Linked DNA regions of Homo sapiens: region 1 is linked to region 2. The links come from fine-mapping of genetic effects on gene expression. A gene starts in region 2. The other region holds a variant in brackets. All regions are shown on one strand. Distances are between the middles of the regions.

What was found.
Region 1: its variant is fine-mapped to the expression of TOGARAM2 in whole blood (TOPMed, PIP above 0.99).

The regions. Positions count from the first base shown.
Region 1 is chr2:29,000,796-29,015,908 of GRCh38, forward strand. It overlaps TOGARAM2 (TOG array regulator of axonemal microtubules 2), which reads left to right. Exons shown (of 20, transcript NM_199280.4): 5 at 1,741-1,952; 6 at 2,697-2,887; 7 at 10,660-10,706; 8 at 13,600-13,766. Among named protein-coding and RNA genes, the nearest start is that of TOGARAM2, 27 kb to the left of the region's middle. RefSeq lists enhancers at 10,367-10,496, 14,523-14,572. The variant C/T (reference allele first, on the strand shown) is at 6,857.
Region 2 is chr2:28,975,241-28,990,353 of GRCh38, forward strand. TOGARAM2 (TOG array regulator of axonemal microtubules 2) reads left to right here and starts at 6,058. Exons shown (of 20, transcript NM_199280.4): 1 at 6,058-6,298.

The sequences.
Region 1 (15,113 bases), 26 kb after region 2:
GAGGAATTGTCCTGGCTGCACATTATGGAGGCAGAAGGTGGGGTTGGAATGCCCGAGAAGCTTCCTTAGAACTTCCAGTAGGTACAACTCCTAGAGCTGCCAGACCAACAACTCTCTCCCTTAGGGGCTTGAAGCCCTTTTCTAGATATTTCATTTCTTTTTTACAAAGTTCCAGCATAGGGAAAAAAAGAATGGAGTTGTTCTACCTAATGTTCTGATGGGCAGTGACCTATAGACTTATCAGGCCCCTCAGCAAGCATGGAGGGCCGGGGATCTCTGGCCCCCGGGCAGTGCTGGGGCTGCTCTGGCCCCTGCATTGAGGCTGAGTTGACTCCTCTGTGCCCTGACCCAGCTGGGGCTCAAGGTGGCCCGGCAAGTGGCACAGTCTCCACTTGACCACACCCCTTCTTTTCCATCCTTTCAGCTCCCCACAGGCTAACCACAACACAACAGTGCTCCAAGACAGAACAGAACCAGCACCGGAAGCCAGGAGGGGAGCGAGTGTGCAGGAACAGAGATGATATTTTGACTTGGCTGGTTTATTTTTTTTTAATTTTTTTTTTCTGGAACAGAGTCTCGCTCTGTCACCCAGGCTGGAGTGCAGTGGTGCGATTTTGGCTCACTGCAACCTCTGGGTTCAAGTGATTCTCCTGCCTCAGTCTCCTGAGTTGCTGGGATTACAGACAACCACCACTAGGCCCAGCTAATCTTTTTTTTTTTTTTGAGACCGAGTCTTGCTCTGTTGCCCAGTCTAGAGTGCAGTGGTGCGATCTCGGCTCACCGCAACCTCCACCTCCCAGGTTCAAGCGATTCTCCTGCCTCAGCCTCCCCGGTAGCTGGGACTACAGGCATGTGCCACCACGCCCGGCTAATTTTTAGTAGAGATGGGGTTTCACCATGTTGGCCAGGCTGGTCTTGAACTTCTGACCTCCAGTGATCCTCCCGTTCTCGGCCTCCCAAAGTGTGTGGGATTACAGGCGTGAGCCACTGCGCCTGGCCTGACTTGGCTGTTTTGATGCAGTGGTTTTGTTGAGGCCAGAATGAAAGTTAAAATGCTAGTCTTTTTTTTTTTTTTATTCCTCATCACTGATATTTACAAAGATAACCCTGAGCTCTTGGCCCAACCCAGTGCTTCTTGCCCTGTGCCTTTGCCTGAGGCATGGCTGTGGGGTGAGATGGGGTGGGGCACAGGGCGCTGAAGATGTCTGTTGGGCACCTAAAGCATTCAGAGGGGAGCTGGAAGTGTGGCGGTCTGTCTTAGACTATGTTAGCTGTGTCAAAACAGCTACGCCCCACATCACCAGCCGAAAAGGAAGGGGAAACAGTGGCAGGTACTTGCCTGGCATCTTATATAAGTGATGTTATTGAATCACCCCATTTCACAGAAGTGTAATGGGGTTCAGAGAGACAGTGCCTTGCTCGAGGTCACATAGCTTCTACCCACGGCCAGGACCTGCCATGCTTCCTCCTGATCTGGCACTGCTTTTATTTCCCTTCCTTCCCACGCTGCCTCTGAATTCTAAACAGGTAACTTGGATTGGCCCTTTCTGGAATGGCACAGACACTCAGAAGTGGCTGCTTGCTCAGTCTACCAGTGGTGGGGTTGGGGACAGATCTGATCTCTCTCCTCGCCATCCCAGTCCTTCCCAGGGCAGAAGGCCCCGTTGCTGGGGTCTGAATCCACCTTCCACTCCCTGTTCTTCTGGGACTAACTGATTTCCCATCCCCATCCCTGTACAGCCTCTCTGGATCCAGGGGGAGGCCCCCAAGGAGTTCCCCTGCACAGCACCATCCCCCGAGCCACCTCTCAGAGGCTGCTGAGGGTGCCCAGGCCGATGCCTCTCATCCAGAGCATCCCTACCACCCCTGAGGCCAGCGGAGTCAAAGAGAAGGGCCTGGACCTACCGGGGAGCATTCCGGGTCCTCACGAGTTGAGACCCGGTGCTCAGGAGGTAAGGTGGTTCGACTGCTGTGAGTCTGGTCCTCAGCTTCTTGCCCTCCCTTCCTCCTGCCTTTCTTTCTAGCCTCCACCAACCCCTGACTCCATGCCCTGAGCATCCCTGGAGGTGTCTTGAGGTCTGCAGTGAGGATAGGGACAGCACTGGGAGAGGCTCAAGGTGCTCATTTCACCACCTCCCCCAGCATCTCAAACCTCCATAGCTGGCCTGGGGGCTCTGGGTGGCTGTGCCAGAGGCTGCATGACCTTTGTCCTAGAACTGGTGGTCCCCTAGGCCTTCTCTGGTCTAAATGTTCCAGAATTCCTCCTGCTTTCTGGCCCTCTCCATTTTAAGCAAGAGTGTGGCAAAGAATGCTGGGCTAGGACTCAGATTTGGGCCTTGGTTTCTGTTTGCCCCTCACTGGCTGTGTGACCTTGTGCAAGTCACACCCCTCTTTGGGCCCCAGTTTGCACATCTATGAAAATAGAGGTTTGGCCCAGATGTGTTTGAAGGTCCTTCCAGCTCTGATGTTCTAGGATTTTTCTGAAATGAGAACAGAAAAACGAATAATAATAGTCACAAAAGGGCTTGCCAGTCTCCTCACCAGGAGTGGTAAGGAAGCAGTCAGGCTTCTGGGGGTCCCAGGGTGGTGTGGCTGAAAAGAGACAGCAGGTCCCACACTGTGTGAGGTGCCTGGAGGTGAGCATTCACCATGGGATGTTGCCATAGGCCAGACCCCTGTCCCGCCTCTGCTCCCAGGCGCAGATCTCCTGGCAATACCTGCACTGCAATGATGAGAAGATGCAGAAGTCCCTGGGCGCCATCGTGATCCCACCCATCCCAAAGGCCAGGACGGTTGCAGCGACCCCCTCCCGTGTGCCTGGCTCCCTTCCCAGCCCGTTACCTCCAGGCCAGGGAGTCCTCACAGGCCTGAGGGCCCCACGCACGCGGTAAGAGCTCCAAGTCAAACCTTCCTTGCTGACTTCTCTCCCTCTGTCCCCCTGAGATCCACTGGGGCTCCTTGTGGCTGACCCTCCATGCTGTGGCAGAGTTCTTGGGACACCAGGCAGGGAAAGGGCTGGGGGCTCCACCCATGAGCCACAGACCTAGGGAGGTCCCAGCATGGTTGCCGGGGCTTCTCTGCCTCTTGGCTCCGGCAGGCTGGGTCAATGGCATCACGAACAATGTCTCCAGCCTCTGTCTTCTCCCAGTGCCTTAGTGGATGAGGTTGCCGGAGTAATGAATAAAACACTAATTATTTTATCTCATATATATAATTTTGAGATGGAGTCTCACTCTGTCGCCCAGGCTGGAGTGCAGTGGTGTGATCTCAACTCACTGCAACCTCCGCCTCCCGGGTTCAAGCGATTCTCCTGAGTAGCTGGGATTACAGGCACCCACCACCATGCCCTGCTAATTTTTGTATTTTTAGTAGAGACGGGTTTCAGCATGTTGGCCAGGCTGGTCTTGAAACTCCTGACCTCAGGTGATCTGCCCTCCTTGGCCTCCCAAAGTGCTGGGATTATAGGTGTGAGACACCGTGCCCGGCTATGAATAAAACACTATTTTAAAGCATGATTGAGTTCATGGCAGCTCTTTGTAATTAAATATTTTCTTAATTGATGGATACTAAAAATACAACCAGTATCATGTGTATGGGGGACAGTCCACAAACTTTTGGACTTGAAAAGGGGTCTTCATATCCCACAAACAAGTGGGGAAGAGGATCTTTGTGTTGGCATAAATCGGGTTATGGCTTGTAAGTAAGACAGTGCTCTAGATGGCCAGCAACATCCCCGTGGTCAGTCCAGAGTGATGTCAGAGCACGTGTGTGTGAGAGTGAGTGTGTCTGAGTGTCTTTGTGTGTGCACACATGTATGAGTGCCTGCAGGTATGTGTGAGTGTATGTGTATGAGTGTGTATGTGTGCATGTATATGTGAGTATATGCATGTATGTGAGTACAAGAGTGTGTGTGTCTGAGTATGTGTATATGTGTGAGTGCATGCATGTGTGTGTGTGTCTGAGTGTGTGTGTGCATGAGTGCAAGAGTATGTGTCTGAGTGTGTCTGAGTGCATGTGTGGAGTATGTGTGTGCATGTATGTGTATGAGTGCATCTGTGTGGAGTTGTGTGTGCATGTGTGTGGAGTGTATGTGTACATGTGTGAGTGCATGTGTGTGCATGTGTACGTGTGTGAGTGCATGTGTGTGCATGTGTGTGCATGTGTATGTGTGTGAGTGCATGTGTGTATGTGTGTGAGTGCATGTGTGTGCATGTGTATGTGTGAGTGCATGTATGTGAGTGCATGTGTGTGCATGTGTATGTGTGTGAGTGCATGTGTGTGCATGTGTATGTGTGAGTGCATGTTGTGAGTGCATGTGTATGGGTGTGTGTGCATGTGTATGTGTGTGAGTGCATGTTGTGTGTGAGTGCATGTGTAAGGGCATATGTGTGCAGTGTGTGTGTGCATGTGTGTGGGTATGTGTGCATGTGTGTATATGTGTGTGGGACCATGTGTGTGAGTGCATGTGTGTGGAGTGTGTGTGCATATGTGTGTGTGTGCATGTGTGTGTGTGGGGTATGTGTGCATGTGTGTGTGAGACCGTGTGTGTGCATGTGTGGAGCGTATGTGTGAGAACGTGCATGTATGTGGGTGCATGTATGTGGAGTGTGTGTGTGCGTGTGTGAGAGCATGCATGTGCGTGAGTGCATGTATGTGAGAGCATGTGTGACTGCATGTGTGTGCATGTGTGCATGTGTGTGAGTGCATGTGTTTGTGTAACTACGTGTGTGAAGCCATGTGTGGTGTGTGTTCATGTGTGTGGAGTGTGTGTGCATGTGTGTATGTGTGTGAGGGCATGCATGTGTGAGCATGCATGTGAGTGCATGTGTGGAGTGTGTGTGCATGTGTGTATGTGTGTGAGGGCATGCATGTGTGAGCATGCATGTGAGTGCATGTGTGGAGTGCGTGCATGTGTGAGTGCATGTGTGCATGTGTGTGAGCACATATATGTGTGTATGTGTGTGTGTGAGTACATGTGTGGAGTATCTGTGTGTGCATGTGTATGAGTGCATGTGTGTGAGTGCATGTGTGTGCATGTGTATGTGTCAGTGCATGTGTGTGCATATGTGTCAGTGCATGTTGTGAGTGCATGTGTATGTGTGTGAGTGCGTGTGTGTAAGTGCATGTGTGTGGAGTGTGTGTGTGGGGTATGTGTGCATATGTGTATTTGTGTGTGAGACCGTATGAGTGCATGTGTAGGGTGTGTATGTGTGCGTGTGTGTGTGAGACCATATGTATGTGAGTGCATGTGTGGAGTGTGTGTGTATGTGTATGTGTGAGAGCACGTGTGTGTGTGTGGGGTGCATGTGTGTGGAGTGCATATGTGTGTGCATGTGTGTGAGAGCATGCATGTGCGTAAGTACATGTGTGAGCATGTGTGACCACATGTGTGTGCATGTGTGTGAGTGCATGTGTTTGTGTGTGTGACTGTGTGTGAAGCCATTTGTGGAGTGTGTGTGCATGTGTGTGGAGTGTATATGTGTGCATGTATGTGTGCATGTGTGTGTGTGAGTGCCTGTGTGTGGAGTGTGTGCATGTGTGTGTATGTGTGTATGTGTGAGTGCATGTGTGTGCATGTGTATGTGTGTGAGTGCGTGTGTGTGAGTGCATGTGTGTTCATGTGTATCTGTGTGTGTGCATGTGTGTGCATGTGTATCTGTGTGTGAGTGCATGTGTATGTGTGAGTGCATGTGTGTGGAGTGTGTGTGCGTGTGCTCAGGGCCTATGGGCCTGGCTCCTTCAGTAGAGTCACAATCCAGTTCCTGCTGTGACTGCTTCCCTCCCGTTTCTTGGGGCCTGATGACTTGGATTCTTCCATTTTTCTCACACTTCCTCATTCCCTCCATCTCCCTGGTGCCTTCCCTCTGTGCACACACATATTCATGTCTTTCTCCGACCCTGTGGGTTATAGAGACCCGTCCATGTACCTGCTCCTGGATTCGAGTTCTCTATTCAGTTTTCACCGTCAGCCTCCTCAGACAGCAGCTTGCTCCACTGACCTCCGCCTCCTCACCATTGCACACGTCCTCCCCTTTCCCACTCAGACGCTGGCCTCTTCCTCCCCTCGGAGCAGCCTTATCTGTGCCTCTCATGACTCACTGGCCCCAGACCTGTGGCCTTTCCTCTTATCTCTTTACTCTTGACTTTTTTGCATCATTTGAACCATGGATGGCCCTTGAATTTTTCTTCTTTTTCTGCATCCTGACTTTATACCTGCTTCTCGACCTTCCAGGCAGCTTCCTGTGTGCCCTCTTCCATTTCTAAGTTCTGCCATTCCCAAAATTGTTCCAGGACTGTTTGCCCCCATCTCCTGTTTTCTCCTGGGGCCCTTATGTGTGCCCAAGTCTTCCAGATGGTGGAATGTGGGTGAGTTCACATCTCCTGCTCTAGCCCTGGAACCATCCACAGGTCAGGCTCCGGGTTTCCATCTTTCTGTTGGGCATCTCCAGTTTCTCCTGGCTGATGTGATCCAGCACCAGAGGGAGAGACAGGGAGGTTGTGCCACCATCATGGCAACAAGGACCACCTCGTGTTTCCCCAAACCACCCCCTCCCAAGACCTCCTCATTGCTGTCAAGGTGCAGACCTTCTTCTTGGCCTTCAAGTCTCAGTGTCATCTTTGACCCTTGCTCCTAGTGCCTCCTGCTCCAACACATTTCCATAGCCCCCAAGTCTTTCTTAACAGCCATGAAAGCTCCACCCCTTTCTTGCCCCTGCCTTTCCCTCTTGGTTTGTACTTCCGCTTCCTTCTTGACCTCCCCTAATAGTGCCTAGCCAGTATCCTTGCAGCCCTGTGCGCTCCATCCCCATCTTTCATTTTCCTGCTTCCCCCGCCACCTTGCACACCTCTTGCAGGC[C/T]CTTTGCCTGTATTGACATTCCTGATTGAATGAATGGCGGGTCCTTTGTGTCAAGGACCCAGGCGCATAATGCTGAGTCTCCTTGGCCTGACAATCAGGGTCCATCCAGCCCACGACCCCACAGTTCCTCCCCGCTGTCCCCCAGTGCTTGTTCTGTGGGGCCTTCTTACCCCTCCAGACCCTGAGGACCTATTACCATTTCACTCATCCATCCATCCATTTACGAGGGGACATGGTGCTTCCCCTCGTCCATCTCTGCAACCCCAACAGCCTCTCACCCCTTTCCCCACCCATTCATTTCATCTCCACTGTTCCATGTCTACCTACTCTCCCTTTAAAGGGCGGCAAGGAGGGGAAGTGGTCTTCTCTGCATTGTCCACAGGCATCCAGCCCAGGGACTGCCTCAGCCCCTCCCTTCCATTAAACAAAATAAGCAAATCTTGATTATTTAAATTTATTTTGTTTATTTATTTTGTTTTATTTATTTGTTTTTTATTTTTTATTGTTATTATTTTTTGAGATGGAGTCTCACTCTGTCACCCAGGCTGGAGTGCAGTGGCACGATCTTGGCTCACTGCAACCTCTGCCTCCTGGGTTCAAGCAATTCTTCTGTCGCAGCCTCCCGAGTAGCTGAGACTACAGGAGCATGCCACCATGCCTGGCTACATTTTGTAATTTTAGTAGAGCTGCAGTTTCATCACATTGGTTAGGCTGGTCTTGAACTCCTGACCTTAGGTGATCTGCCCACTTTGGCTTCCCAAAGTGCTGGGATTACAGGCGTGAGCCACTGCACCCAGCCAATTAAAAATATATATATTTTTTTGAGATGGAGTCTTGCTCTGTTACCCAGGCTGGAGTGCAGTGGCACGATCTCTGCTTATTGTAACCTCTGCCTCCCTGGTTCTAGTAATTCTTCTGCCTCAGCCTCCCAAGTAGCTAGGATTACAGACATGCACCACCAGGCCCGGCTAATTTTTGTATTTTTAGTAGAGCTGGGCTTTCACCATGTTGCCCAGGCTTGTCCTGAACTCCTGATCTCAGGTGATCTGCCCACCTCGGCCTCCCAAAGTGCTGGGATTACAGGTAGAAGCCACCGCACCTGGCCAGCCTATTTTATTTAAACCTCATTCTGTTCTTTAACTTGGAGCACCACAGGGCAGGGGCCATATGTCAAAAACCTCTGTGGCTTCTGTGGGGCCAGGATTGGTACCTGGCATGGATTAGTTCCGTAATAAATATCTGTCCTTTCCTGTTTGGTTTGTGACATGGATTTCCCTTTGTTGACAATGTGGGGCTCTCTAGCCAATGGAGGGGATGGAGGCTCTATTACCATTTCAGTCATCCATCTGTCCGTTTACTCACCTAAAAGCTGTTAAGCACCTACTATGTGCCAGGTGCATAGGTCACAATCTGTGTGCTCCAGCCAGGAAGTCATCAAGGTGAAGTTCAGAGAGGTGGGTGCGTAGGCGAAGGCTGCCTGTCATGTTGGTGACCCAGGAGAAAGAGATCTGAATCATGCCAGGCAGACTTCTCAGGGCAGGATGAGGGCACACTTGCGAGATGGAGATGGAGGTGGAAGAGGGAGAGACGGAAGGAGGAGTGAGCCCCTGCATCCTTGCGTGACAGCCTGCGGGGTGGGGGTGAAGGGCCTGTGTGCCAACTGAGAAGTGGGAGCTTCATCCTCCTGTAAGGAGGTGCCACCAAAGGCTTTCGGGTGTGAAAGTGGCATCTGCTGTGACTTAGAAAGGCCATGTTGGCAACCTCAGAGTGGCATGGACCGTGTAGATGGAGGTGGGGCTGCTGCAGGAATCCGGGGAGAAGGCAAAGGGTGGCTGAGCAGGGCAGAGGCAGGGAGTCTGTGGGCTGAGGATGCAGAGGTGGGGGCGGGGCGGGATGAATGGCAGGGCTAAGCCACGGGGTAGATGTGGGCTGAAGATGGGGGAGCTGAGACCATGCCGGGGTTCCTGGCTTCAGCCACTGGACAGATACTGGCACCCTTCTTGGAGACAGGGCATAGGAGAAGAGGCAGGTGCTGGGGACAGTGCTGAGGCCACTCTTGGACATGCTTAGACGTTTGGGTTGGAGCCGGGAGGGGCTCTTGCTGGAAACAGGGCTTTGCTGCTCCTGCTCCACCCACCTCCTTGGGGCCTGCGGAGGAGCCTGAGCGGTGGTGGGTTTTCTGTGAGGTTCGCACAGGGTGGGGCGGGGCTGCCACGTGCAGGAAGGCAGGGGCCCTGATCGGCATGGCCTGTCTTGGCCTCAGTCCTTTCTGCTGTGGGGTCGCTAGAGAAGGGGAGGGCAAGAGGCTTCCCCAGGGTCCACAGCTTAAGAGAAGCTGCGCCAAGTCCTCTGAGGCCAAATCCCTTGCTCAGAGCAGGTGTGTGTGTGTGTGTGTGTGTGTGTGTTGGGGGGGCGCAGAGCGGGGGAGGCTGCAGCTCAGGGCCCCAGGGGCAAAGCCGAGGCATAAGCATTGGGGTTTTTGGCATCCTGTGCTCACCTCAGGCAGCCTGGGACCTCCATGAGCTCATAGAAGCCAAGGGCAACTGTGTGGACTTTGATGCTCCACTTCCCCTCCCCGCCCGCCTCCAATCCTCTTAGTGCCGTTGGGCAGTGGTTAAGCAGTGGTGGGTTACAATGGCAAAGGCCTAGTGGGCGAGCTCCCCAGGTCAGGGGTGCCCTGGAGCATTCGCTTACTATCTCCAGCCCACACGATCCCTCCCTGTGGGTCCAGACCCAAGAGGCTGGGCCTGGCCCTGGGAGCAATGGCGAATCCCGGCTGATCTACGCCCAGGTTGAAGCTCCGCTCCTCCTGTGGACTCCCCTGACCTCCACAGTCCCCAAGGATCAGGGTTCCCCTGCATCCAGGCAGGCACTGAGGGGGGCTGTCCTACCGCCCCTCCTGCAGCCCGGCCTGGACTGTGATCCTCTGAGGCCAGTGTGTGGGATATTGTGTTCCTGACCTGTTGCTGTGGCTTGTTACTCTGTCAGCCCCCCAGTGGGTCCTGATGTCCACCGAGAAGGGAAAGCCATGTAGGACGCTGCAGGGCTGGTCTCCATGGGAACCTGAGCTCCCGGAGGGCGGGGAGTGTCATGTCTTATTGATGCTCCATTCCCAGTGTCTAGAATAGTGCTTGACACATAGTAGGTCTTCAGTAAATATCTGTTGAATAAGTAAATGGTGCTTCCAACTTAAGAAATTACAATTAAAACCAGTGCCAGGGATGCCACTGTCTTCCCCCTCCTGTGGGTAATTGGGATTGAGCTTCTGGTACAAAACAGTGGTGACTTCCTGCCACAGCAAAGGGGATCAGCTCCGCCCCCCAGGCCCTGGGATGGGGATTACAATCACGAGTGGGACTATTTAGGGGTCACTGAGCTCTCACGGGGTTGGGGCAGCTTGGAGAACTTGAGCTCAGTGCTGTCTAAGCTGGGAGGCAGTTTACCCTTGTTTACTGCAGCTGCTGTCAACTCCACAGGCCCAAGCAGCACAGCGGGAGGGTGGGGGCTTCCTTTAAGTCAGCAGTTTCTGTGTGGGTGTCAGCCTCCTGGGGAATGCGCGAGCTGCACTGCCAGGAAATGGGGCTGAACCTGGCCTGGTGGTCAGCCTGCCCTTGTGTTTGCAGAGGGAGCTGTATCTCCTGCAGCTTGAATCCTGGGCCAAGAGCCTCTGCAGGGATAACAGTGCCGTCCCCTCTGTCCCCCATCTCGGCCATTGCCCCATCCTGGAGCCACCCTGGGCTCCCCCAGCAGTGTCTCTGGCTGGCCATCCCTCATGATGCTTTTCTCTCCCCCGTTCTTTTAAGATTGGCTCGGGGGAGTGGGCCTCGGGAGAAGACCCCTGCATCTCTGGGTACGTATCTTCCATGCACACCTCCCTTTGTTATTTGACTCTCTACATTCCTGGGCTGGGTCAGGGAAACAGAATTAGGGCCAGAGGAGATCTGAGAGCTCTTGTGTCTGGGCCCTTCATTTCACAGCAGGAAGCTGAAGTCACCGGAGGTCTAACCGGAGGGTGGCAGCGGGCCCGGGCGAGGTGTGGAAGAGAAGTGACATTTATTGACACCTGCTCTGGTACGTCAGGTGTGATGACGTACACCAGCTTGTGCAGCTTGCCACGGCCTCGATAAGAGAGACAATTCTGGCCGTGTGTGACAGACGAGCTGGCACACGAAGGCTCTGTGAGCAGGATGTCCTCCCTGGTCGCTGAGCCCCATCAGGCTTGCAGCCAAGTTTCCACGGCTCCAAAGCTGGGGTCTTGACACATCAAGCAGCTGCCCCTTGCGGTGTGTTAAGCAAGTAGAGAGAGTATTCCTCACCTAGAGAATGAGAGGGTAAACCAGAGCCCACAAACCTCAGCCAGCTGGCCCCAGGAGCTTTAGCTGTCAGGATATAGGGCCAGCACAGGATTGAGGCGAGGAGAGGGGACAGGGCAGGGTAGGAGGCCTTTAAAGAGGGAGGAGGGATCCTTCCTGGATTGAACTCTATGGGGAGGTGGGACGGGTGGATGGAAGCTGAGCCTCTGCTGCAGGGTTGGGGAGCAGAACACCCCGAACCCAGGCCAGGGTGGGGAGGAGTTGGAGGCAGCCGCTCTACTGCCCGGCAGGAGGGGTGGCCTCCCCAGGACCAGCTTCCTGGCAGGTCACTCTGCTAATCAGCTCAGCTGGTGGGGCAGTTGGCGAAGGGGGGTGGCTGTTGCCCAAGAGGCCCTGGGATCAAGACACAAAGCTGGACCTGGCACAAGAAACCTCTGCGGCAGCTGCTTCTCCCCTGCTCCCGGGCCAGGCTGCAGCAGGGTGAGCTCAGGCAGTCTGTGGCGAAATGCACCGGCACCCTGAGTGACCTTAAGAGCTAACCCGGAGGACGCTGGTGTGGGGGTTGGGCCAGGAGACCCCAGTCAGTAACCACTTCCTCCCCTGGCTCTCCAGCTTGCTGCTTGAGAACCAGGTCACCAGGGACCTGTGGCAGGGGCAGGCTGCTCAGACAGGGCTTTCCAGGGCATCCCTTTGGGGTGGAGGTGAAGAAGTGACATAAAAAATAGTTAAGTCCTTAAAGGGCTCTCTGCCCTCCAGCTGGCAACTGGGCTGACACTGCCCTCTGTGTGCAACATGCCTAGCACATGGTAGGGGCTCACAGGGTCTTGTCTGAAGCTGGGGGCTTCCTCACATCTGTGGCATTCCTGCAGTCCTTGCCCTGGCCAGGTGGTGCCTACCACATGTGCCCTCTGCTCTGCCTCTTACCTCTGGGCAGATGAGGCTTCAAAGCCCCTCTTCCCCCTTGGCCCTTGATCCTTCTCCCTGCACCAAGCAGAGGAATCCTTTGCAGAAGACATGGCCTGGGCAGAGGACCTGGGTGACCTGGGAGCTCTGCACGGGCCCCAGAGGTAAGATGCCTTTTCCAGCCTCAGGCAGCCTCAGCTGGTGGCCCCATCTCAGCAGACCCCTGACTTGCAGGTTCACCCAAGGACAGTGAGCTCCAAACCCTGTGGGTGGCAGAAAATGAATGAACCTGTTTGAGCCCTGCCTTCATAATGAGAAATGTACCTTTAAAATCCGCTGATGGGGAAGATATGAATGACAAAGCAATACTGTGGATTTGATGCCATCAAGTGGAAGTGAACGGGTATTTTATCCATCCCAAGAGCATTCGAAGGTTACTGGCTGTATTAGTCAGGGTTCTCCAGAGGGACAGAACTAGTAGGATATATGTCTGTATATAAAGGAGTTTATTAGGGAGAATTGGCTCACACGATTACAAGGTGAAGTCCCACAGGCGGCCATCTGCAAGCTGGGGAAGAGAGAGGCTGGTAGTGGCTCAGTCCAAGTTCGAAAGCCTCAAACCAGGGACGCCAACAGTGCAGCCTTCAGTCTGTGACCAAAAGTCCGAGAGCCCCTGGCAAGCCACTGGTGCAAGTCTCAGAGTCCAAAGGCCAAAGAACCTGGAGTCTGATGTTTAAGGGCAGGAGGAGTAGAAGGAAGCGTCCAGCAGGGGAGAAAGCAGGCAGCCAGAAGACCCGGCAAGCAAGGTGATCCCACCTTCTTCCACCTGCTTAGTTCTAGCTGCGATGGCAGCTAGCAGCTGATTGGATGGTGCCCACCCACACTGAGGATGGGTCCTCCTCTCCCAGTCCACTGACTCAAAGGTCGATCTCCTCTGGCAGCTCCTTCACAGACACACCCAGAAACAATACTTGACCAGCTATGTAAGCATCCAATCCAGATGGCACCTAACATTAACCATCACACTGGCTCTCAGCTTTTCCGTCTGTGAAATGAGACTGGACTAGTGTTAGATCTCTGGTCCTGGCAACTCTGCCCTTTCCTGCTGCGTCATGCTTTCAGGCAAGCCCATGGTCATATGAAAGGATTGGTGGGCCCATTTTGCTTTTTCTTTTCCTGCCGTACGTACCTCCCAGGACAGATACACTTACTTATATTCTCAGGAAATGTCTTACATCTCCTGGATAACACATCTGGCCCTGTTTCCCGCCCAGCCTCCCCAATCCCACACCTATCTTGGAATAAAGTGTGCAGTGAATGAACGAATGGAGGGTGATGCTGGTCCACAGGTAGTCTGTCTCATGCCTGCCAGTGCTGCCCTGTACAGTAAACCTAACTCAGGTCTTGCTCCATTGAGGAAGAATTGAGGGTGTGGGGCTTAGCAGTAGAATTGAGCCAGCCACAGGGTCAGTGAGCTCAGCAGTGACCTGGGTGTCTTCAGCTCCACCCCTGTTCTCAACCCCTCAGAGCCAAAACCTTTGGCCTCACCCATCAGAGACAGGCCTGCCGCTGCCAAGAAGCCTGCCCTGCCTTTTTCTCAGTCTGCTCCCACGCTGACAGCCTTCTCCTTTGACTGTGCCAGAGAAGCCTGCCCTCCGCTGAAAGAAGAGGACCAGAAGGAGATCGGCACCAAGGTACCTGGGGAGCGGGAGGAGGAGGAAGTGGGGCTGGAGTGGACCGCAGGCTGCAGGAAGGCAAGCAAGTGTCTGAAGTATTCAAGAGTGGGACCAGCCACAGAGCAGAGCAAGGAGAGCCCGAGGCAGCCACCCAAGTACTAAAGGCCAGAACCTGCAGACGGGGTTGGGGTGAAGGCTGAAGAAAGGAAGAGAAAGGATGGGGGTCAGAAGCGGGGTGGGGAACTAGGTGCAGGGAAGACTGCAGAGGGTTGCTGAAGGGGTAGGAGGGAGGAAGGAAGGAGGACGGGGAGGTTGCACAGGGCTCACGAGGAAGCCGGACGTGGGGAGAGAGCAGGAAGCCTTAGGTGAACTGCGCTGCGTGGTTTGAACTAACACCCAAGATAGCAAATGAGAGGCAGCTGACTCAGGGCTGATCAGCCACGGGCTGTGCTCCAGGGACTGGCGAATACCTCACACTTCTCAGGTGACCTTGGAAGGTGGTCTCTTCCCTGGTTGGAACGAATTTAGTGAAGCTTGGGGAGTCACTGTAGTGAGGAGCCTGTGCTCATTCTTTGAGACAGAACATTCCAGGTCAAGAAGCATATCTTGAAGGCCTCCTGGGTGCATATTCTCTGTTAGAGACTGGGTGACTGTTAAATCAGCACCACAACCCTCCCACTGTAGAGAGGACCACAGAACAGGAAACACAAACAATGATTCAGTGCAGCGAAACGAGCTGATCCTCCACCCCACTTCTGCGCTCCCTCCTGTGGCCACATCGTAGGCCTTGGCATTCTAAAGTGTGTCCCCCCACCATGGTCTCAATTTCAAGCATCCCATTGGCTCACCACCTTCTCCTGCTGTTCTGCTCAATCCAGCTAATCCTTCAGTTCCAACACTTGTTCCCTCTCTGGCATCAACAATATTCTCCTTGAAACAGGATCATTGCTATCAGCATGTTAGCTCTCTGTTACCTCTTTCATTTTAAGAAAGCGGAACAAAACCAAGAGAAAATGATTGCCGTGTCTCTCTTCTCTCCTTTGTCCACTCCTGACAGGCATTAGTCCACACTCCCCACTGAAACTGCCCACATTGGAGTTGCCAATGACCTTCATCTTCCCAAATGCAGCCACGGTTAGTCCTTGTCTACCTTGACCCCATCGCAGCTTTTGATACGACTTGTGTCTCATCCTTGAATTCTCCAGCCAGGGATAGGGGTGAGGGGTGGCTCTTTTTTGGTCCTGCCTACGTGAAAGGCAGCTCCTTCCCAGCCCTTCTTGGCTGCCTCCTCCTCATCTCCCCGGCCTCTGGATGCTGGAACTCCCCCAGCGCTCAGCCCTCTGGCCTCTCGTCTATTTATACTGA
Region 2 (15,113 bases):
TGCAGTGGTGCGATCTTGGCTCACTGCAAGCTCCACCTCCCAGGTTCATGCCATTCTCCTGCCTCAGCCTCCTGAGTAGTTGGGACTACAGGTGCCCGCCACCACGCCCGGCTATGTTTTTGTGTTTTTAGTAGAGACGGGGTTTCACTGTGTTTGCCAGGATGGTCTCGATCTCCTGACCTCGTGATCTGCCCGCCTCGGCCTCCCAAAGTGCTGGGATTACAGGTGTGAGCCAGTGTGCGAGCCACTGCGCCCGGCCGAGACATTTTATTTTTTAATGTGTTTTAAGCACGTTCATAATTGCAAATTGAAGCATTTTTATGATGACTATTTAGAAATCCTTGTTAGAGAATCCTCAAATCTGTGTCATCTGGGCGCTGCATCATTGATTGCCTCTTCTCATTCAAGTTATTTTACCTGTTCTTGGTATAATGAGTGGTTTTCAGTTGTCTCCTAGACATTTTGGGTATTGTGTTGTGAGATTCTAGGTCCTCTTCTGTCTTCTTTTTTTGCAGGGCATTTATCCTGTTTAGGTCTAGCACACAGATCTAGGTGGGATTGGATGTTCGCTTCACCACTGGGCCTTGCTGATACCATCTCAGCAAAAGCAGGATATTGCCTCACACCCCTATGCCTTTCCTCATTGCTGATGATGGGATGGAATTTCAGCTCCCCACTGGGCCCTGCTGGTGGAGGCTTTTTAAAAAAATGACAATATATGTACAGGAATATGTACATATTATAAGTATGTGAAACATATGCTTAATTTTTACAAAGTGGAAGTTTAGGAGCATTTTACACATTTTCCTATTTCTTTGCATGTTCTTATAAAAACATATCAAATTCTGGGCCAGGTGTGGCGGCTCACGCCTGTAATCCCAGCACTTTGGGAGGCCGAGGTGGATGGATCACGAGGTCAGGAGATCGAGACCATCCTGGCTAACATGGTGAAACCCCGTCTCTACTAAAAATACAAAATAATTAGCCGGACGTGGTGGCGGGTGCCTGTAGTCCCAGCTACTCAGGAGGCTGAGGCAGGAGAATGGCGTGAACCTGGAAGGCGGAGCTTGCAGTGAGCTGAGATCACACCACTGCACTCCAGCCTGGGCGACAGAGTGAGACTCCATCTCAAAAACAACAACAACAACAACAACAAAAACCCATCAAATTCTTTTTTGCCATTAGCTTCTGGAGTTATTTACTCACCTATTAACTCCTCCCCTCCCCCTGCCCTCCATCTCTCGAGCTTTCCTGTGGCTGTGGGGCAGGGAGCTGCTCTTCTCTGACACGTCCTTTTGTGGAATGGGGAGAAAGGAGGGAGAGGCACACCCCATGTGAGATGAGGGGTTGGCTTCTGTTGGGAGAAGCCCTGAAGGGCAGCTGGGGCCAGAAGCAGCATAACCAGAAGGCGTTAGTCCCCATCCTGTCATTACCACTGAATTCCTGTGTGACTCCATCATCTGCGATAAGAGGGGCTTGGCCTAGTCCTCTCTCTGATCCTGTGCTTAGGTTGCATACATTATTCTAGAGTTTCCCAGGAACTTCCCAGGGAACACGTCAGCCCAGTGGCAGGTGCTGGTTGGGAGGGGCCTGTTCTGTGTCCTTGGCAGTGTCTGAGCACCCCCACCCAGCCTGTGGTACTGACAGGGCCTTTCAGGCTCTCCAGGCTGGGGCTGGCCTTGGAGGGGGTGGGGCAGTGGTATTTTGGGAGATAAGCCAGCACAGTGTCAGTCTGGAGGCAGTGCCAGCTTGCCTCCATTATCCGCTTTTCTACCTGGGGGGGCGTGGCCTGTGAAGGGATGGGGGGCTTCCAGCCTTTCTCCTCAGCCTGGGCCAGGGCCCAGGACACAGGGCATCAGGGCTCTAAGGGACCAGGAGGTCACCCAGTGTCTGATCACAAATGACAGTTTGGAAGCCCAAGGAGGGCAGGGACTTGTTGGAGGGCACACAGTAATGGTGACAAAGTCAGGACTGGAACCAACTCTCTGTCCACTTGCCTGGAACCCTTGGCCATGCCCTATGCTAACCATCTTTAGCCTGGGGGCACCTTATCCTGAGGGATGGGTACCTGAGACAGAGATGGGGGAGGCGCCTGAGCATACCACCTCCTAGGGTCCCTACCAGGGGCCCTTGCTCCCCATGCTCCCTGGGATCTGACCTCCAGCTAGGCCTGGGATGGTCCTGGTTTATAAGGGGGCAACACCAGCCCAGGGGGTCAGAACTCCCCCTACCTGTTCCCTGCCATACAATGTATGGGGCTGAGACTCTGGTCTGCAGCTTGGATCTCAGGTCTGGTCCTGGAAGAAGCGGTGAATGTTGCAGGGGCGGGGGCTTCTTATGCCGCCAGCCACTTCCTCTCCCCACGTGCAGTCAGGTTGGTGTCGCTCTCTCAACACCCATGTGGAACCTGGCTGGCGCTGGTTCCAGAGATATAAGGCATGAATCCTGCCCCCAAGGAGCTCACAGTCTAGGTCTGTGTGGCTGGCTGGTGGGCCAGGAGAGGGGCGGGCAGTTACAGTCAGCGGATGAGTGGTGCTGTGATAGGGAAGTGCTGGCCCTAGAAAGGCAGATGAGAGGCACCTCTTTTCTAGAGAGTCAGTAAGGACTCCCCTTGGGAGCACGTGGGTGGGAATTGGCCAAGGGAGATAGGTATAAAGTGTTTTTTTTTTGGTTGTTTTTGTTTTGAGATGGAGTCTCATTCTGTCATCCAGGCTGGAGTGCAGTGGCACAATCTCGACTCATTGCAACTTCTGCCTCCTGGGCTCAAGCAATTCTCCTGTCTCAGCCTCCTGAGTAGCTGAGATTACAGGCATGCGCCACCATGCCCAGCTAATTTTTGTATTTTTGGTAGAGACGGGGTTTTACCATGTTGCCCAGGCTGGTCTCGAACCCCTGGCCTCAGGTGATCTGCCTGCTTTGGCCTCCTAAAGTGCTGGGATGACAGGCGTGAGCCACCGTGCCCGGCCGGAGATGGGTATAAGTAAGGGGTAGGAAGGGATATGGGAAAGGCTTTTGGGGTGGAGGGAACAGCATGAACAAAGGCCAGGAGAGGAGAGGAGCATGACAGCTACATCCCAGAGCAAGGGGAGAAGACCCCTCAGTGAAGTCCCTGCTAATAGCCCAGCTACGTGTTCAGGAGACTATTTGGATATAGGATGCTCAGGTCATTTGCAATGGGAAGTGTGTTCAGGGTATCTAGTCCTTCTTGTTGCTAGACATAGAAACAGCTTTGTTCACTTTACAAATCAACAAGGGCCAAGAGGACTCTTGGTGACATTTTTACTGAGGGAACAGGATCAGAATTTAGTAGTCTTCCACTGACCAAATCCATCAGCATGGAAAGTTATAGAATGTTGGTTTCTGAAATCTTGAGTAGATTTCTGGGGTAGATGGGGGCTATCCCCTGTGGATGTGGAGGGGGCTACTTATTTGGTACTTTCAAGAGCCCTCTTCCCAGCTTGTGATTCTGTATTGTGAGTCAGTTTAATTCATTCACATCAAGTATTTGTTCATCGGTTCTGGGGGTGGGAGCAGGCCAGTGTGAGCACACCCAGGAGAGTCGGGGCAATGACTGGGAACACTGGGCACTGGAGGAGACAGGTGACATCTGGTTTCCTTCATAGCTGTTGACCCTCTTCCGAGGGTCTGGCCGCCCTTCCACCAGGGGTCGATACAGGCTTTGTGAGACTCGAGGCTTAAACAATTTGGGGGCTTCTTTAAGAAAGAAAACAAAATTAAGTATGAAAATATTTTTTTAGAATGAGAAAAGAAGTCACAACAAATGACTGAGGGCTGGATTCGTGTCCCTTTCTTTCTGAGGTCTCTTCAGGGGAGTTCCAGAGAGCTTCCAGGTGGCAGCCTGGCTGCCCTCCCCACCTGGAGTGCCCCAATCCTTCCAGGCAGCTCCTGGCTCCCCCAGAGGCCCGGGGCTCAGGTTGTGTTTGCCTCAGCGGTTTCCACCCATGCTCCTCGACTGGCCTGCTCCTTACCTCGGGGATTTCATGTGGATGTCACACCTCACTGCCCCTGGGATTCGCTCTCTGTCCATGGTCACAGTGAGGGTGAGTGCGTGCTCTGTGCCTGGCGGGCACACTGAGGGTCACTGGAGCCACCCCAGGGAGGGAGGATCTGCAGTCTTCCTGCTAGGCATATGAAAGAACCAAGACTCAGAGAGTTTGTTTCTTGCCTAAGATGTCATTGCTGGGATCAGAATCCAGTCTGGAATCCAGGGGCTTCAGAGCCCTGGTTCTTAAGGGCTGTGCTGTGTTATCCATCCTCCCTTATTGCAGGTAACACAGGAACAAGCAGGGGGTTACCTGCTGGGGCCTCTCTCCATCACTCAGCTCCTGAGGGCAGGCTGTGCTGCCTCCTGTGTCTCTAGCATTTGGCACAGAGCATGGCCAGCCCACCTTGGGAACACATAATGCTCGGCCATCCAGTGGAGGCAGAGTGTGGAGAGCCCAGGAGCTGAAGGAGGATGCAGTGGGGCCTGATTAGAGGGGCTTGGCAGCCATGGTGCTAAGTCTGGCCCTTACACCAAGGACAGCAGGGGCCATGAGGGGTGTCCAGCAGGGCACGGCCATCGGATCTGTGTTCTAGAAGCTCCGACTCAAGCAGCGACATGCAGATGGGCTTTGGGGGAGCTGCACACACACCATCTCCCTGCCAGAGCTGAGGGACACCAAAACCTGCCTTGTCACGTCCCCGCCCTGGGTTCCCATGGTTGAGTCGCTCTCACTCACAAGCTGTGTGGCTTGGGGCAAGGGCTTAACTTGCCAGGCCTCTCTTTCCCCACCTGGGCATCTTCATACCTGTCTCCCAAGGGGAATCCGCACAGCCACTGTTCCTGGTTTGGAGGAAGAGTCTCCTTTCTGGGCCTCTGCTACAGGGAGTTCAGGAGTTCCGTTCGCCTTGTCAGCTGTGACCTCTGGCTTGGGGCCAGCACCTGCCCCAGAGGGACCTTGTTCTCAGTCATAATTGGCTGGCCCTCCTTGCTCCCTCCTGGATCTTGGTAAATGACAGCAGCTACTCCCAAGGCCTGCCCTCCCTGGCCATCTCAGGGAAGAGGAGAGAGTCCCAGGAAGGAGCTACCCCGTGTGCAAGCATTTCAGCAGCCCAGGCCTCGTGGGGTGTAGTTGGCCTCCCACCAGCCATCCCTGTGTGTTCCACACACCTGCTGATTCCTTTGTACAGAATATGGGGAGGAGCTGCCTGGGAAAATTCATAGTATCTTTGGGCGAGTGGCTGTTTGCAAGCCTGCATACAAATTGAGTCCTTGGCTTCCACTGTGTGCCCCCTGGATGGTGAGGGCTAGAAGGGGGTAGCATGAGGAGTGGGACTGGCTGTCATTCCAGAGAGAGGATGCCAGCCTGGGATTTCCGCCCAAGAGCCTGGGTTCAGTGAGAAAGTACACATGGGCTGCTAGGATTCACATTTTCCAAAAGTTAAGGTGGAGAAATCTGGTTGGGACGAAGGCCACAGGCTTTCTGCTCTGCAAGGATTTCTGGGGAAGTGATGGAGAGCCTACCAAGTGCTAGACAAAATTACAAGCTGTTACATGCACCTTTGAAATCCTTACAGCAACCCTATCAAGTCAGTACTATTGGTGTACCCATTTTATAGATGAGGAAACTGAGGTCAAGAAAGGTAAAGTTCTGACCAGAGGGCACACAGCTGGAAGTAGCAGGATCAGGATTCAAACCCAGCTGCCTGCTGCCAAGGCCTGGATGCTCACTCTGTCTTTCTGCCTCTAGGAGAGTTAGTAAACAGAAGCAGATTGAGCCCAGAGGCCATGTGAGCAAAACCAGGAGTTCTACCAACAACATCCCTGCACCAAGCCAGCTATGCACTTCCTGGCTGCAGTCACCAGGCAGGGGGGCCCAGTGCTCTCTCTTTCTGTGGTGTCCATGACCCTAGAGGACAGGTCGGCCACTTGGTAGTGCCTGTGCTCCGGTGAGCCACAGAGGCAATGAGACCAAGGGGAAAATCTCTCGGCTCGGTCTCTCCCCCGCGCAGGGAGCTATGGGCTCCTTCAGCGAGTGGTTGCTATGCAGCCTTGTTTATTCAAGGAGAGCTTTGCTGAGAGCTGGAGCACGCCAGCAGTGGAGCTCGTGGCCACCCAGCCCCTGCTCAGACAGGAGGCTGCGGCCCAGGACTGTGTGGCTGGTGGGGGCCAGGGTGGGCCAGGCCTGGGGCTGCCCCGTCCTTGCCTCCCTGGGCCCATGAGCATCAACGTCTCTATAGAGACCAAGGACCCTGGATTCCTCCAGTGACAGGGGTTTGGCCTCTGGACAGAGAGGTGAGAGACGATAGGTCCACCAAGCCATCTATTGTAGGTGGTGAATGGGAGGCTGGGTCAGGACCCCTGAAGTCCCTGGAGGGAGGGATAAAGACCTGAACTGGAGCAAGCACAAACACACAGAGAAAGAAAAAGCATCCTGCTGTGACTTGGAGGCTGTGTGACCGTGGGGATGTCTCTGACCCTTTCTGGGCCTTCATGTGGCAGCTCTAGGGGAGGAGGTTGGACTCACTGTTCTCTGAGCACTGGGAGCCAAGGAAGGAGGGGCTGGCCTGGGCTGACCCCTTCCCCGAGTCATGGCCTCTGTGGGCAGTGCTCTCTACCTCAGGGTGAACCCTTCACAGGGCAACAGCTCCCTGGGGTGCTGTGGGCGATGGTGCCGGGAAGGGTGGGGGCATGCTGTGGGGATGGCACCCGTGCTTAGGGGTGCTGGGGCACCCCGTGAGAGCATAGGCCTTGGAGGGGCTCTGCTCTGGGTTTGAATTCTAACCCCCCCTCTTTCTGGCTGTGTGGACTTGAGCTCTTTGCCTCTCTGAGCCTCAGGTTTCTCATCTGTGAAGAAGGGTTTAAAAAAAGCCCCCTTGGTGCTGTCTGTGAGCATGGAGACAGTCAGGAGGGCAGCTGGCACGTTAGCCCATGCGCAGAATGGAAGTTACTGTTTGTTGTTGATGCTGTTGTTAGGTGGAGATTGGCATGTTCCTTTCTGGAGCACATTTCAGTCTCCTGAAACTAAGGTTTTGCCAGTCACTTCTCCAGGACAAGGGCTGGTGCTGGCGGGGGACCTCAGAGGGCTGCCATTTCCTCAGGAGCGCTGGGAGGGGAGGGACTGGGGCCCGTACTCTGTCGGAGCATCACTGAGGCAGGCCACAGGGCATTGGTGCCTGGCCCCAGGAAGTGGTGTGAGGGGCCCATAATCGCTTCTATCCTGAACTGGGCAGTCCCTCGCTCTTCTCACCAATGCCCTGCAGGAGACGGCCCTGCAGCCTTCTAGCCACAGGCTGGCTCCCAGGACTGGCTCAGTTTCAGCCCATGGAGCCTGAGACTAACAGATTTGAAGAAAGGGGGAGGTAGTTGGGGGCAAGGGATGGGGAGATGTCAACCTGAGCTCTGGAGAGACCTGCCTCTGAGGGCAGCGCATCCTCCCATTGACCCCACGGCTACCTCAGAGGCACCAGACTCTGCTCACTAGCACAGAGGCTGGAAGTTTATTATTGCAGACAGAAGAATGCATAAAATGCATGCAGTGTGAGGAATAATTATAAAGTGAATGTCCATGTAGCCACCTCCCAGGCCAAGAAACAGAAAAACTGGCCGCCTCCCAGAACCCACCCCCGTGGGCCCTGTCCTTATCACAGCTGCCTCCCTTCCCCTTAGGGTTAATCATGCTACTAATTTTTCCTTGATTTTCTATCAAGTTTTCCATCTATGTCTGCATTTTTATTTTAATTTAATTTCGCTTCATTTTTTGAGACAAGGTTTCACTCTGTCCCCCAGGTGGGAGTACAGTGGCATGATCTCAGCTCACTGCAACCTCTGCCTCCTAGGCTCAAGTGTTCCTCCCACCTCAGCTTCCCAAGTAGCTGGGTGTACAGGTGCACACCACCATGCCCGGCTAATCTTTGTGTGTGTGTATATATAAATATATATATATATATATATATTTTTTTTTTTTTTTTTTTTTTTTTTTTGTAGAGATGGGTTTTTTCCATGTTGCTCAGCCTGGTCTCGAATTCCTGGCTCAGGTGATATGCCTGCCTTGGCCTCCCAAAGTGCTGGGATCACAGGTGTGAGCCACCACGCTGGGCCTATGTATGCATTTCTAAACACTCGATGTAATTTTGTCTTTCTTTGAACTTTATAGAAGTAGGGGCATACCCTGTGTGGTCTCTTGGGTCTGTCTTCTTTCACTAAACATTACGCTGTGGCATCGTCCATAGTGTTGAGTGGGGCAGTCGTTTGTTTCATTGCTCTGTAATATTCTATGTTGTGAGTGCACCATGATTTAGTCCTTCATTTTCCTGTTGGACATTTAGATTTTTTCCAGATTTTGGCCATTATCCATGGCACTGCTCTGGACACTCTCGAGCTCCTTTCCTGGATCACCTGTGCAAGACTTTCTCAAGGGTGGGTTCCTAGGAGTGGAATTGCTGAACATTAGGTTTGTGCATTTTTAGCTTTATCAGGTAAAGCCAGACCACTTTCCCAAGGGTTTGTGCCCATTTGCATCTCACCTGCCAGCTGTCATGAGTGCTCCCATTGCTCTGTGCTCTCACTAGCACTTGGCATTGCCGCCCATCTCAATTTTTGCCCATCTTTGTGGGATGGTGGTAGCATCTCATTTGCATTTTCTTGATTACCAGGGGGTTGAGCATCTGCCCCCAGCCATTCTTCCTCACCTCTTTCCTCCTCTGTTGGGTGCCTCCCTTCCTCTGCTCTCTGTGATCTCAGCCCCTCATGGTGCTCAGGCTTTTGAGCCCCATTTTTCTCTCTGCCCTCCCCACTCCTCCATCCCTCTCCTCCATTCTTCTTCTTGGAGAACCAATCACTATTCCACATACTTCTTAGTGTTTGAATTACAGACCCAGGCTCCAGAGCCACTGTCTGGAAGTCTGAGTTTCCCATTTCGTGTTTTAAAACCTCTGGTTCTTGGCCCAACTCACATCCCTTCCTGGGTCTTGGATTTCTCTTCAACAAAACAAAGACAGAAAAAAAAATGTCCCTCCACAGAAGCCATTTATATTTCCCAGGCAAAACCTGGTGTATGTCCTGGAGAGGCACACACAAAACTCTGGCTCCTATTCAAGAAAGTCGGCTTTCTCATGGGCCATTGGGAAGGGACAGGGCCGGGGTCTGAAGTCTTCTGAGCTTCTTGCAGGGAGGCCTTTGCCAAGAGCCCTTTCCTGGGGTGTGACAGACATTCAGATGCTAGAGTCATGCCAATACACCTTTGCTGAGACTTTGGACAAGATGCTTTCTTGCTTCCTAGTCCCTTCTGATCCTCTGAGTACATGTGCTTGTTTACAGTCTACAGTTTGAAGATTCAAGCTCCTGCTACTGGGCAGGAATCCTCAACTGATCAGCCAAACCCTGCAGAAGGCATTCCTGGGGCAGTGGACCAAGCCATTTTTCATTCGAGACTCCAGGACTATGATCAAGTGCTAGGATAACTCTTACCTTGATGGTGGAAATCTCAGGGCCAGCAGAAGACTTCCAAGCCCCAGCCAATGGCTGTGTGATTTCAGGCAGGATTGATGCGGTGGTATCCTACCCCTCCCAAAACCTTAATCCTTGGGAGCACACTACACAGGCTCTGACCAGGCACTGTAGTGGCAAGGTGACCATTTTGGGGAGGCCTTGATGGGAAGCTGGAAAAGGAAGCTTTCCTCCCAGTCCTGCTGAAGGCCTTGCCAGCTGGCAGCCAGTGTGATGCCTATAGGGGTATGGGCCCTGGGATAGGTATTGGCTCCTGATGGCCTTATGTAGGTGTTATAGACTGAATGCATGCGTCCCACAAATGCAAATGTTAAAGCCTAACCCCCCATGTGTTGGTATTAGGAGGTGGGGCCTTCGGGAGGTAATTAGATTCAGATGAGGTCGTGAGGGTGGTTGTCTCATGATGGGTTAGTGCCCTTAGAAGAAGAGACCAGAGAGCTTGCTCTCTGTCTCTCTCTCTGCCATGTGAGGACAAAGGGAAGACAGCTACCTGCAATCCAGGAAGTGAGTCCTCACCAGGAGTGGAATCAGCTGGCACCTTGATCTTGGACTTCCCAGCCTCCAGAACTAAATTGCTGGGGTTTTTTTTTTGTTTTGCTTTTCATTTTTTTGTTTTGTTTTTGTTTTTGTTTTAAGTCGGAGTTTTGCTCTTGTTGCCCAGGCTGGAGTGCAATGGTGTGATCTCGGCTCATTAACCCCTCATTTACAAGGGAGGAAACTAGCTGACCTCCAAGGCCCCTTCCAGCTTGAAATTTAGTAACAGAAGAAAGGCATGGGAAATTCTGTTAAATTACTAGACCAAGTTCTGATTAATCTCTAATTTATATTTGCACCAACACGATACACAAAGGTGGGGGCAGGTTCAGAAGATTTTGAATTTTGTAAATTTGTGTATAAGTTACATACGCTTTGTTACTAGGACCACAGCCCACTCATATGGTTCCTTTGTGAATTAGAAAAAGATGTCTCTTTCTCAAGACACTTTTCTTCTATTCATCAGAAAAAGACTGAAATGAATGTACAAATATGTACAGTCATCGTCTAAAACAACATTGCCAGGACTTTGGAGAAGATGTAGTGTGAGGCTTATGCCTGTAATCCCAGCATTTTGGGAGGCTGAGGTGGGTGGATCACTTGAGGTCAGGAGTTCGAGACCAGCCTGGCCAACATGGCAAAACCCCGTCACTACTAATAATACACACAAAAAAATAACTAGCTGGGCATGGTGGCACATGCCTGTAATCCCAGCTACTTGCAAGGCTGAGGCAGGAGAGTTGCTTGAACCTGGGAGGTGGAGGTTGCAGTGAGCTGAGATCATGACACTGACCTCCAGCCTGGCCGACAGAGTGAAACTGTGTCTCAAAAAAAAAAAAAAAAAAGATGTAGTGTGAGAGATGTCTCCTTAATTAGGATGCCCTCGTGCAGTGCCCAACCTAGACAATCAAACATGGCAGCCCTGCTTGTCACTTATCTCATTGTTTTTCAAAAACAGCCTAAATAAAACTTTCTCTCCCCCTAGGCTTTCCTATGTCTTTTAGACTGTTAATTCTCACATCAGAATTTCCTGGGGTTGTGGAGGGGGGATGTTTTAAATGCTGCGGCCCATCCACCCCCAACCCGAGATACCCACACTGAGCTGCTATTACAAATGGATGGCCACATTCCTCGGCTGCGTTGGGCATAAAACAGTTGGGAAGTGCTGCTTTGGGTTTCTGACCACTTCCTCTGCCCTGTCCTGGGAGGTCATTAGATTCAGGTGTGAACTGCCTCCTGAACAGACTGTTCTGTTAAGAAAGGTTCTTCCCAGCAACGTGCTACTTGACCCCTGTTGTAAGTGTCCCGCCCCAGCCTGCCCACTGCTTCCTGCTCACCCTGGACAGCTCAGGAAATGGAAGGACCTCCTGCTGCACAAGGTGGCACCTCCGTGTTGCTGTCCAGCCTCAGCCAGGCCTCTGTAGCTTCTTGGCCCAAAGGCTTTCAAAAGGGACATTTCCCCTCTTCCTGAACATCTGAACACAGCAAAACAGTTACTAAACAACCAATACTATTAATAGCCACTGTGGATCGAGCCCTTGGGCCCAATCAGCCTATTAAATGTTTCTCATATTTTGTGGAATATTCTCAATAACCTTGGAGATAGATATTATTATTTCCATTTCGCAGTTAAATGGAGACTCAGAGAACTTTAATCATGTGCCTGAAGTCACACAGCTAGCAGGTGATGGAATTTAACCCTGTTGACTCCTGAATGAATGCCCTGAAATACTGCCACCTCCGTGAACAGAAACCATCAGCCCCGACTCTTCTACTTAGTAGCTCTGTGGCCTCAACCTAGTTACTTAACCTCTCTGAACCTCAATCATCTTGTCTATAAAATGAAGATGAAAATACATACTTTCTTTCTCTATTTCCAAAGCTCAATGACATAGTATTTGGAAGCACACTGTAGTACATTGCCCCGGGCGCAAAGCAAAATGGAACTAAGAAATGTTAATTCCTTCACTTAGGTTCTTCTCAATAAGACTGTCTGGAAGATGTGCTTTAGTGTTTTTTTATGAGACGGAGTCTTGCTTTGTCACCTAGGCTGGAGTGCAGTGGCATGATCTCGGTTCACTGCAAACTCCGCCTCCCAGGTTCACGCCATTCTCCTGCCTCAGCCTCCCGAGTAGCTGGGACCGCAGGCATCCACCACCACGCCCAGCTAATTTTTTGTATTTTTAGTAGACATGGGGTTTCACCATGTTAGCCAGGATAGTCTCGATCTCCTGACCTCGTGATCCGCCCACCTCGGCCTCTCAAAGTGCTGGGATTACAGGTGTGAGCCACCACACCCGGCCAATGTGCTTTAGTTTTGAATTCATTCATTCAGTCACACTACAGTTACTGCATTATTGCCATGAACCTGGCACTGTTTGTCCCTTTGTCTGCATTCTGTGGAATTGCTGGCTGGCTGCACCCTATATTGTCTGAGAACAGAGTGGCTACAGGAGTATTAACCCCACCTGATCTCACGATGGGAGAGGAGACGCCATCTGCAGCAGTGGTGGTAGACCCAGAGCTGGTAAAGAGTTGTGGTGGGGGGCTTCTCATCTGCGAACGGCCTTTCTGCTGGCCCCCACATGCCAGTCACAGCTGGAGTCAGGGGCCTGAGTGGCGGGGGGCCTTGGATGCCCCCACAGGGGGTCTGATGGGTGTGGACATCAGTCTCGCAGTTGGGGGTGAAGTGGCTCTTGGGACTGCCAGCTCTAGGAGTGGCCGAGTTGAGGGTCAGTGTGGAAACCAGCCCTGCCCCAAGCTAATAAAGATGGACATGCAGGTGGAGCCATCCAGGCCTCCTTGCAGCTTGTCTGCAGCTCCAGAGAGGGAGGTCTGGGCTCTACGGTAGGCTTGGAAGTCCCGATAATCAGATGGCAATTGAAATCACAAGGGTAGGTGCTGCCTGTAAGAAGCCCTCCTAATAAAGATGGAGGCATCTGGGAGAGGAAAGGAAAGGAATGGTTTGGTTCTTCTAAAGTCAGAATATGTCTCCGTGACTGTTCAGAACTTCACACTCCTGAGTCCAGCTCTCATGTGCAGCAGACTCACCTCCCTCTTCACTGCCAATATCAAGGCCGTTCTACGTGCCCTTTCTCTCTTCCTGACCTCTCCCTCTGTAGGACCCTTGGCTCTTCCTCCAGGGTCCGAGGACTGGTGCTCCCATCTGGCCCAGCCTGTGCCCTTCTCCCTCAGCTGTTAGCACTGGGCTCCCGCTCCATCAGCTCCCCTCCCTCCCCTGTGTCTTCAGCCTTTTCCTTCTGACTCTTTCTCCTCCTCCTGTGAACACGCTCTAGAATCTCCTACCCTGAAAAATACAGAGAACAAACAAGCAAACAAAAAATACAGAGAACAAACAAGCAAACAACACAGCTTCATCCACCCTTCATTCCCCTCCAGCTACTCTCCAACCTCTCTCCTGCCTTTCTCATCCAAATTCTCCAGCGTTGTTTGGACTCACCATCTCTATACCTTCCACTCACGCCTCAGACCTCAGCAATTTTCTGTGACCCGCATGCCTCCACAGGCACAGACCTTGCTCTCACTAAGCTCCCGATGATTCCATAATGGTCACATCCAATTGGCTGAGCTGACACCTCTAACCACTCTCTGCTCATCTGGCTCTCCTGGCGCCAACTCCCCTGGCCTCCCTGGCTGTCCTTGATCAGACCCCCTTAGGGTCTCCCCTTCTCTACCCATCTCTGCTCAATGCTGCTGCTCCCTGGGATGTTCCTTAGCTCTGGGCACTCTCTTGTGGTCAGGTTTTTGTATTTTTATTTTTTGAGCTGGAGTCTTGCTCTGTCGCCCAGGCTGGAGTGCAGTGGTGTGATCTCAGCTCACTGCAACCTCTGCCTCCCATGTTCAAGTGATTCTCCTGCCTCAGCCTCTTGAGTAGGTAGGATTAAAGACTTGTGCTACCACACCCAGCTAATTTTTGTATTTTTTGGTAGAGATGGGGTTTTGCCATGTTGGCCAGGCTGGTCTCTAACTCCTGACCTCAAGTGATCTGCCCACCTTGGCCTCCCAAAGTGCTGGGATTACAGGTGTAAGCCGCCATACCGGGCCCGCTTTTCATATTTTATTGAATGCAATATTGAAGTGAGATAAGCATTATCTCCTTTTTTTTTCTTTTTTGAGACAGGGTCTTTGTCGCCCAGACTGGAGTGCGGTGGCACAATCTCAGCTCACTGCAGCCTCAACCTCCTGCGCTCAAGTGATCCTCCTGCCTCAGCACCCCCAAGTAACTGAGACTACAGGCACAGGCCACCACGCCTGGCTAATTTTTGTATTTTTGTAGAGATGAGGTTTTACTGTGTTGCCCAGTACTGTGTTGCCCAGGCTGGTCTTGAACTCAAGCGATCTGCCAGCCTTGGCCTCCCAAAGTGCCAGGATTACAGGTGTGAGCCACCATGCCCAGCCAATTTTTGTATTTTATAGAGACGAGGTTTTACTATGTTGGCCAGGCTGGTCTCGAACTCAAGCGATCAGACAGCCTTGGCCTCCCAAAGTGCCAGGATTACAGCAGTATTTCCACTTTGCAGTTAAAAGAGCTGGGGCTCAGAGAAGTTTAGCAACGTGCCTTCAGTCACACAGCTTGCAGGTGCTGGATTTTAGTCTTATTCCCCTTCATATCTTAGTACCTATGGCATGTTTGAATGAATGAGTGAATCTCACATTTTCAGTGGCAGGCCGAACTCTGGAGGTCAGAGTCTCATAAGTTGGTCACCTGACAACATCCAGAGTCCTCCCTGCAGGTCTACGGCCTGGGCTGCCTCCCATGAGGGGAGCAGAGGTGGGTGGAGGGGTGAGATGTATGTGTATGGTGATTGGAAGCATGGGTAGCTGTTTCTTGTCCACAGGGAGACAGCACGAGATACAGGAAGGCATGTTCTGTCCAGTCTAAACCCTGCGTATAATCAGTGTGAAATCCTGGTTAAGTTGTTTATTTTCTGTGCCTGGTCCAGAGGCTGGGCTGACATCTCTACATGTCAGTGCTGTAATTCTCTCCGAGGCTCCCCTTCCTTAGGAAGTCCTTCCAAGGCCCCACTTGAGGGGTCTGCATGAAACT